2 linked regions of the Homo sapiens genome follow. The protein of the gene in region 1 purifies or fractionates together with the protein of each later gene. This does not show direct contact. Each region holds a gene or a part of one and is shown in the gene's direction. Other genes may lie near its edges.

Evidence for each region.
Region 2: the proteins of UNK (region 1) and ZFYVE19 fractionate together in Homo sapiens (co-fractionation; one large-scale study listed by BioGRID). This does not show direct contact.

Annotation. Positions count from the first base shown.
Region 1 is NC_000017.11:75,787,517-75,791,339, forward strand, and holds part of UNK (RING finger protein unkempt homolog), read left to right. Parts: intron 1-3,270; exon of another isoform or gene 3,271-3,823. UniProt on the Homo sapiens protein: Sequence-specific RNA-binding protein which plays an important role in the establishment and maintenance of the early morphology of cortical neurons during embryonic development.
Region 2 is NC_000015.10:40,809,997-40,813,067, forward strand, and holds part of ZFYVE19 (abscission/NoCut checkpoint regulator), read left to right. Parts: intron 1-74; coding exon 75-220; intron 221-391; coding exon of another isoform or gene 392-474; exon of another isoform or gene 475-475; intron 476-652; coding exon 653-761; intron 762-2,702; coding exon 2,703-2,906; intron 2,907-3,071. UniProt on the Homo sapiens protein: Key regulator of abscission step in cytokinesis: part of the cytokinesis checkpoint, a process required to delay abscission to prevent both premature resolution of intercellular chromosome bridges and accumulation of DNA damage.

The DNA of each region.
Region 1 (3,823 bases):
TTTTTTCCTCTTCTTAAAAGAGACATGGGCAGGGTGCGGTTGCTCACACCTGTAATCCCAGCACTTTGGGAGCCTGAGGTGGGTGGATCACTTGAGGTCAGGAGTTCGAGACCAACCTGGCCAACATGGAAACCCCGTCTCTACTAAAAATACAAAAAATTAGTCAGGCCTGGTGGCACACACCTGCAGTCCCAGCTACTCAGGAGGCTGAGGCAGGAGAATCGCTTGAACCCAGGAGGCAGAGGTTGCAGTGAGCAGAGATTGTGCCACTGCACTCCAACCTGGGTGACAGAGTGAGACTCGGTCCAAAAAAAAAAAAAAAGAGAGACGTGATCTCTCTGTGTTAACCAGGTGGACTTGAATTCCTGGGCTCAAGCAGTCCTGCCTTAGCCTCCTGAGTAGCTGGGACTACAGGCACATACCACCATACCTGCTTCCCTCCACCCCCATAAGGTGAATTCATTTATTGCCCTTGGGAGTTAGGGGGCGGGAGCATTTTGATTTTGATTTTAAATGAAAATTTGAGCTGCTTGGGAGGTAAACAGTGGGTACACATGGACATACGGAGTGGAATAATAATTGATCATTGATAATAATTGATCCCATTTTGAATACAGAGATAGACCCCTTTTGAATATTTGTAAGTTTTTGCCTGTCAATTTTTTCTTTTTTTTTTTTTTGGAGACAAAGTCTCACTCTGTTGCCCAAGCTGGAGTGCAGTGGCGTGATCTCAGTTTACTGCAACCTCCACCTCCCGGGTTTAAGCAATTCTCCTGCTTCAGCTTCCTAAGTAGCTGGGACTGCAGGCACACGCCACCATGGCTGGCTAATTTTTGTATTTTTAGTAGAGACAGGGTTTCACTGTGTTGGCCAGGCTGATCTCGAACTCCTAACCTCGTGATCCGCCCACCTTGGCCTCCCAAACTGCTGGGATTACAGGCGTGAGCCACTGTTCCCGTCTGCCTGTCAAATTTTTTACCTTTTTAAACTTTTATTTATTTATTTAGTTGTATTTTTAGTAGAGATGGGGTTTCACCATGTTGGTCAGGCTGGTCTTGAACTCCTGACCTCGTGATCTGCCCGCCTCGGCCTCCCAAAGTGCTGGGATTACAGGTGTGAGCCACCGCGCCCAGCCACTTTTATTTTTATTTTTAATTTTTTTTTTAAATTTATTTTTGTCACCCAGGTTGGTTGGACAGAGCAAGAGACAGGATCTTGCTCTGTCACCCAGGCTGGTGTACAGTGGCATGGGAAGGCGTGAGCCTGAGAAGGTGTGAGCCACCTCACCTGGACTTTCTTATACATTAATTAATTTTGTATAGTTTTATACCTGATGTTATTTGAAATTAGGTAACATGCTGTAGTCTTTGCAATAATCCAGAGACACTTGTGTGATAATTGAGTCTCACTCACCATAACAGTAATCTTGGCAAACACAGTTGAATACACTAAAAGCAAAAAATTATGTTGCCATTGGTTTCCCTTTCTTGCCCTTCATTCTTGTGCTGAAATTAAAGTTCTTAGAGTTTGAGCCCTCCTTTTCCTAAACCAAGAGGATTATTCATAACATAGTTTAAAGGATAATTTTGTTGATTTTTTTTTTCTAAACTCTTGAATAATCTTGCTTTAAGGGAAACTTTGGAATAATCCTTTCAGCAAATTGGTGTAGCAGGCACTTGTGCTGGACTTAGGAATCCAGTCCTTTTAGAAAACAGTTATGTCAGAAGTTCCTTTATTGTACAGCTCCAAGTATTTGCTTAGCACTTAGTAAAACGATAATGTATATGTATTATTATTCTTCCAATACAAGAACCACATGACCTCTTTTTTTTTTTCTGAGACCGAGTCTCGCTCTGTTGCCCTTGGCTGGAGTGCAGTGGCGCGATCTCGGCTCACTGCAAGCTCCGCCTCCTGGGTTCACGGCATTCTTCTGCCTCAGCCTCCCCAGTAGCTGGGAGTACAGGCGCCCGCCACCATGCCCAGCTAATTCTTTGTATTTTTAGTAGAGATGGGGTTTCACTGTGTTAGCCAGGATGGTCTCGATCTCCTGAACTCGTGATCTGCCCGTCTCGGCCTCCCAAAGTGCTGGGATTACAGGCATGAACCACTGCGCCTGGCCTGTGACCTCCTTTTACTAGACAGTTTGTCTTTTAATTTGACAAATAATGAATTTAATTCAGCTTTGTTTATAACATACTGTCTTGTATATTGGAAGAGTTTTATAAAAACGTTTAAGAATGAGGAGAACTTTTGTAGCAATCACGTCTCAAAATGTATCTACAAGTTTAGCTACCTTTTGGCTTTTTGCTGTATTAACAGTTATACTATTGAAAGTGTATAGCTGAGCAGGGCGTAGTAGCTCACATCTGTAATCCCAGCACTTTGGGAGGCTGAGGTGGGCGGATCATGAGGTCAGGAGTTCGAGACCAGCCTGGCCAACGTGGTAAAACCCCCGTCTCTACTAAAAATACAAAAAAATAGCTGGGCATGGTGGCGGGCGCCTGTAATCCCAGCTACTGAGGAGGCTGAGGCAGGAGAATCATTTGAACCTGGGAGGCGGAGGTTGCAGTGAGCCGAGATCGCGCCATTGCACTCCAGCCTGGGTGACAGGACTAGACTCCGTCTCAAACAAAAACAAAAAAATAAAATACAAAAATTAGCTGGGTGTGGTGGCACACACTGAGGCAGGAGAATTGCTTGAACCCAGGAGGCGGGGGTTGCAGTGAGCCGAGATCTCGCCACTGCCCTCCAGCCTGGACAACAGAGCCAGACTCCATCTCAAGGGAAAAAAAAAGTTTATTCTTGAAAGGTCACAGAAAAACTACCATCTGAAATATCCAGCTGGGTATGCTAGCTATAGTCCCAACTCGTTGGGAAGCTGAGGCAGGAGGATCACTTGAGCCCAGGAGTTCCAGACCAGCATGGGCAACATAGCAAGACCTCCTCTCTACTAAAAATTAAAAAAACGAGCCTGGTGTGGTGGTGTGCATCTGTGGTCCTGGATACTCAGGAGGCCGAGGTGGGAGGATCCCTGAGCCCAGGAGATAGAGGCTACAGTGAGCCAAGATTGTGTTACTGCACTCCAGCCTGGGTGACAGAGCAAGACCCTATCTGAAAAATAAATAAATAATTGGCTGGGCGTGGTGGCTCACGCCTGTAATCTTGACACTTTGGGAGGCCGAGGCGAGTGGATCACTTGAGGTCAGGAGTTCGGGACCAGCCTGGCCATCACGGCAAGACTCCATCTCTACTAAAAATACAAAAATTAGCTGGGCGTGGTGGTGCATGCCTGTAATCCCAGCTACTCGGGAGGCTGAGACAGGAGAATCGCTTGAACCCAGGAGGCGGAGGTTGCGGAGGTTGCAGTGAGCCGAGATCACACTACTACACTCCAGCCTGGGCAACAGAGCGAGACTCTGGCTTGAAAAAAATAATAAAATAAAAATAAATAAATAAATATTAAACTCTCCAAGTTTCTGACCTCATTGTTTTGACCCCATGAGAGGAAGTATACCTCAAAGACTAATCATGTCTTCATGCCTTCAACTGCAGTGACTGCAGTCGGTTCTCAGACTTCTTAATTTTAATGCCCTCATGTTAAAGGAAAATGAAATTCTAGTTTAGTGAAGGTTTGCAGGAGTTTTCTGGCCACTTGGTGATTTCTTATAGGTCGACAGAGAATAAATACTTTATAGCTTCATCTATCTAGGCATCATTTAAATTTAGGACTGGTTTCCTGGGCATCGAATTAAACAAAGATAATGTAGCAATACTTCCATAGATAACTCTTTTCAGGCAGTTTTGTCAGTTTATGTATTACGTA
Region 2 (3,071 bases), on another chromosome or scaffold:
AGAGGACACAGTCCAGGGCTTCTGGGACTGAGATGCCTCTGGCCCTTACAAGGCTCCCCCCATGCCAATTGCAGAGTTAGTCCCCTCACAGGCAGAGATAGAGGCACGGCTGGCTGCCCTAAAGGATGAACGTCAGGGTTCCATCCCTTCCACCCAGGAAATGGAGGCACGACTTGCAGCGTTGCAGGGCAGAGTTCTACCTTCTCAAACCCCCCAGCCGGTGAGTGTTATGGCTTAGGAGAGAAGCGGGGGTGCTAGCGGGAGGACCCAGCAGAAGCCCAGATACAGGTATTGGGGTGATACAAAAGTAATTGTGGTTTTTGTCATTACTTTTAATTGCAAAAACCTCAGTTACTTTTGCACCAACCTTTGTACTTTATGTACTTTGCAGGAGTTGGCAAAGCCTCCCACCCCTACCTCCTGATCCTCAGGCCTGCTACCAGACCCGGGGACCAGGGACAAACAGCACGATAGGGTAGGGCAGGAAAAAGTGGCCCCTCAGTCCTGTTGGGGACGGCCAGACCTACTTGATTATGTGGGCCCTGGATCCCTCTCCTTTCCCTGGGCTTTGAGAACTACTTAGCATCCATCCCTGACCTAGACTGCTTCTGGGCTACCCCTGCTCTCCACTGAGGTTTCCTCGTCTGTGCAGGCACATCACACACCGGACACCAGGACCCAAGCCCAGCAGACACAGGATCTGCTAACGCAGCTGGCAGCTGAGGTGGCTATCGATGAAAGCTGGAAAGGAGGAGGCCCAGGTAACCCCTCCACTTGGCTCCCTAGGAATCTGCCCTACCTCTTTCCCCAGACTGGAGAGGCTCTGCTGTCCACCCTCTGGGAGATGAATATAAATCGGAGAGTGATCAACGTTATAAGAGTTACCATTCATTGAGTGCTTACTCCAAAGGGAGCCAGTGTAAGCCTAGTGTTTAAGTGCACGGGCTTTAGAATCAGACAGTGATTCCCATTTCTACCACGTATTAGCTGTGTGATGCTGGACAAGTTACTTGACCTAAGTCTCACTTTCCTCATGTGTAAAATGAAGGTATGTATGGAAAAACCTACCTCACAGGGAAATCAGGAGGAGTAAACGAGATAATCCAATAAGTGCTTGGGAACATACCTGACTCATAGTGAGTACTCAGTGAATATTCTCTGCAATCATGATGTTGATAAGGAGGAAGAAGCTATTTAGTAAAACCAGCCACATCTCAATGCTCAGTAGCCATATGGGCTTCATGGCTACCATCTTGGACAGCACAGATATAGAACATGATATGGAATGTTTCCATCATCATAGAACATTCTGTTGGACAGTGCTGTTTGAAGGCTTCAGAGCAGTGGTTTTCAACAAAGGATGATTTTGCCCCCAGGCTACTTGTGGCAACATTTAGAGACTTTTTGGTTGTCACAACCCAGAGGATATTACTGGCACCTACAGGATAGAAGCCAGGGATGCTACTAAATCTACTATGTCACAGGACAGCACATCATGATGAAGAATTACCCGGTCCAAAGTGTCAAGAGAACTAAGATTGAGAAGTCCTGCTTTAGAGGCACAATCTCATTGAATATCCTCAATAATCTTATGAGGCCAGGTGTGGCTCACGCCTGTAATCCTAAGCACTTAAGGAGGCAGAGGCAGGAGGGAGGATAGCTTGAGCTGGGGAATTTAAGACCTGCCTGGGCAACATAGCAAGACTCTGTTTAAAAAAAAAATCTTATAAGGTACATACTATTCTTTTTTATAAATGAGGAAACAGGCCTGGTGAGCTTGAGGAACTTGACCAAGGTCACACAGCTATTAAGCTGCAGAGATGAGACTTAAACCTAAAGCTGTGATTTTAAACCTCTTGCTCTGAAACACTAAACTGAAGGTGACTGTGTCAGAGCCACACCTAATCTGGTAAAATTCTTCCTGCCCAGTGATATACAAGCTCTTAGCTTCCTTCATTGCCCTCTCTGTGCTAATCCCAGGAGATGCTAATTCCTGCCCTGAAAGGCAAAGAGATCGGCTGAACCTGGGCCTTATCATGTCTTGATCCTTTAGGGCAGTGATTCTCAAACCATAGGACGCCCACCCTTAGGGCAGAATGTTAAAATATCAGGTAGATGGGGATGGATGTGGTTGGAAAAGACATGGGTAAAATTATTAGTTTTTTACATTTGGAAAAATGGAGGAATACTAATTTTATTTGTGATAGAAACCATAGGCGCTAGTGCTGAGCAAAAAGCTGATGATCTGTGATTAGAAAGGGTTGAGAAAAGCTGGGCATGATGGCTCACGCCTGTAATCCCAGCACTTTGGGAGGCTGAGGCGGGTGGATCACGAGGTCAGGAGTTGGAGACCAGCCTGACCAACATGTTGAAACCCCGTCTCTACTAAAAATACAAAAATTAGCCGGGCATGGTGTCACGTGCCTGTAATCCCAGTTACTCAGGAGGCTGAGGCAGGAGAATCGCTTGAATCCAGGAGGCAGAGGTTGCAGTGAGCTGAGATTGCACCACTGCACTCCGGCCTGGGTGACAGAGCGAGACTCCATCTCAAAAAAAAAAAAAAAGAAAGAAAGAAAGAAAGAAAGAAAGAAAGAAAAAATTATTAAAGAAAAAGAAAAGAAAAGGTTGAGAAATGGGCTCATTGGCTTCTGAGGAGAGATACTGGGATGTCTCGGCCTTGCTGATGGCATTACCCCTTCCAGCTGCCTCTCTCCAGAATGATCTCAACCAGGGTGGCCCAGGGAGCACTAATTCCAAGAGGCAGGCCAACTGGTCCTTGGAGGAGGAGAAGAGCAGACTGCTGGCTGAGGCAGCACTTGAGTTGCGGGAGGAGAACACGAGGCAGGAACGGATTCTGGCCCTGGCCAAGCGACTAGCCATGCTGCGGGGACAGGACCCCGAGAGAGGTGAAGGCTGGGGAGCAGCTGCTCACTGGTATCCCTTGGTCAAGGCCTCCCTGGCAGGGCTGAGTCAGGTGCTGGGGGTATTTGCGCCCAGAGATCTACTGAGCCCAGCCCAGAGCCACAAGGAAGGTGGTAGAGCAAAGCAGTGGGTGAGGAGTCAGGGGCAGC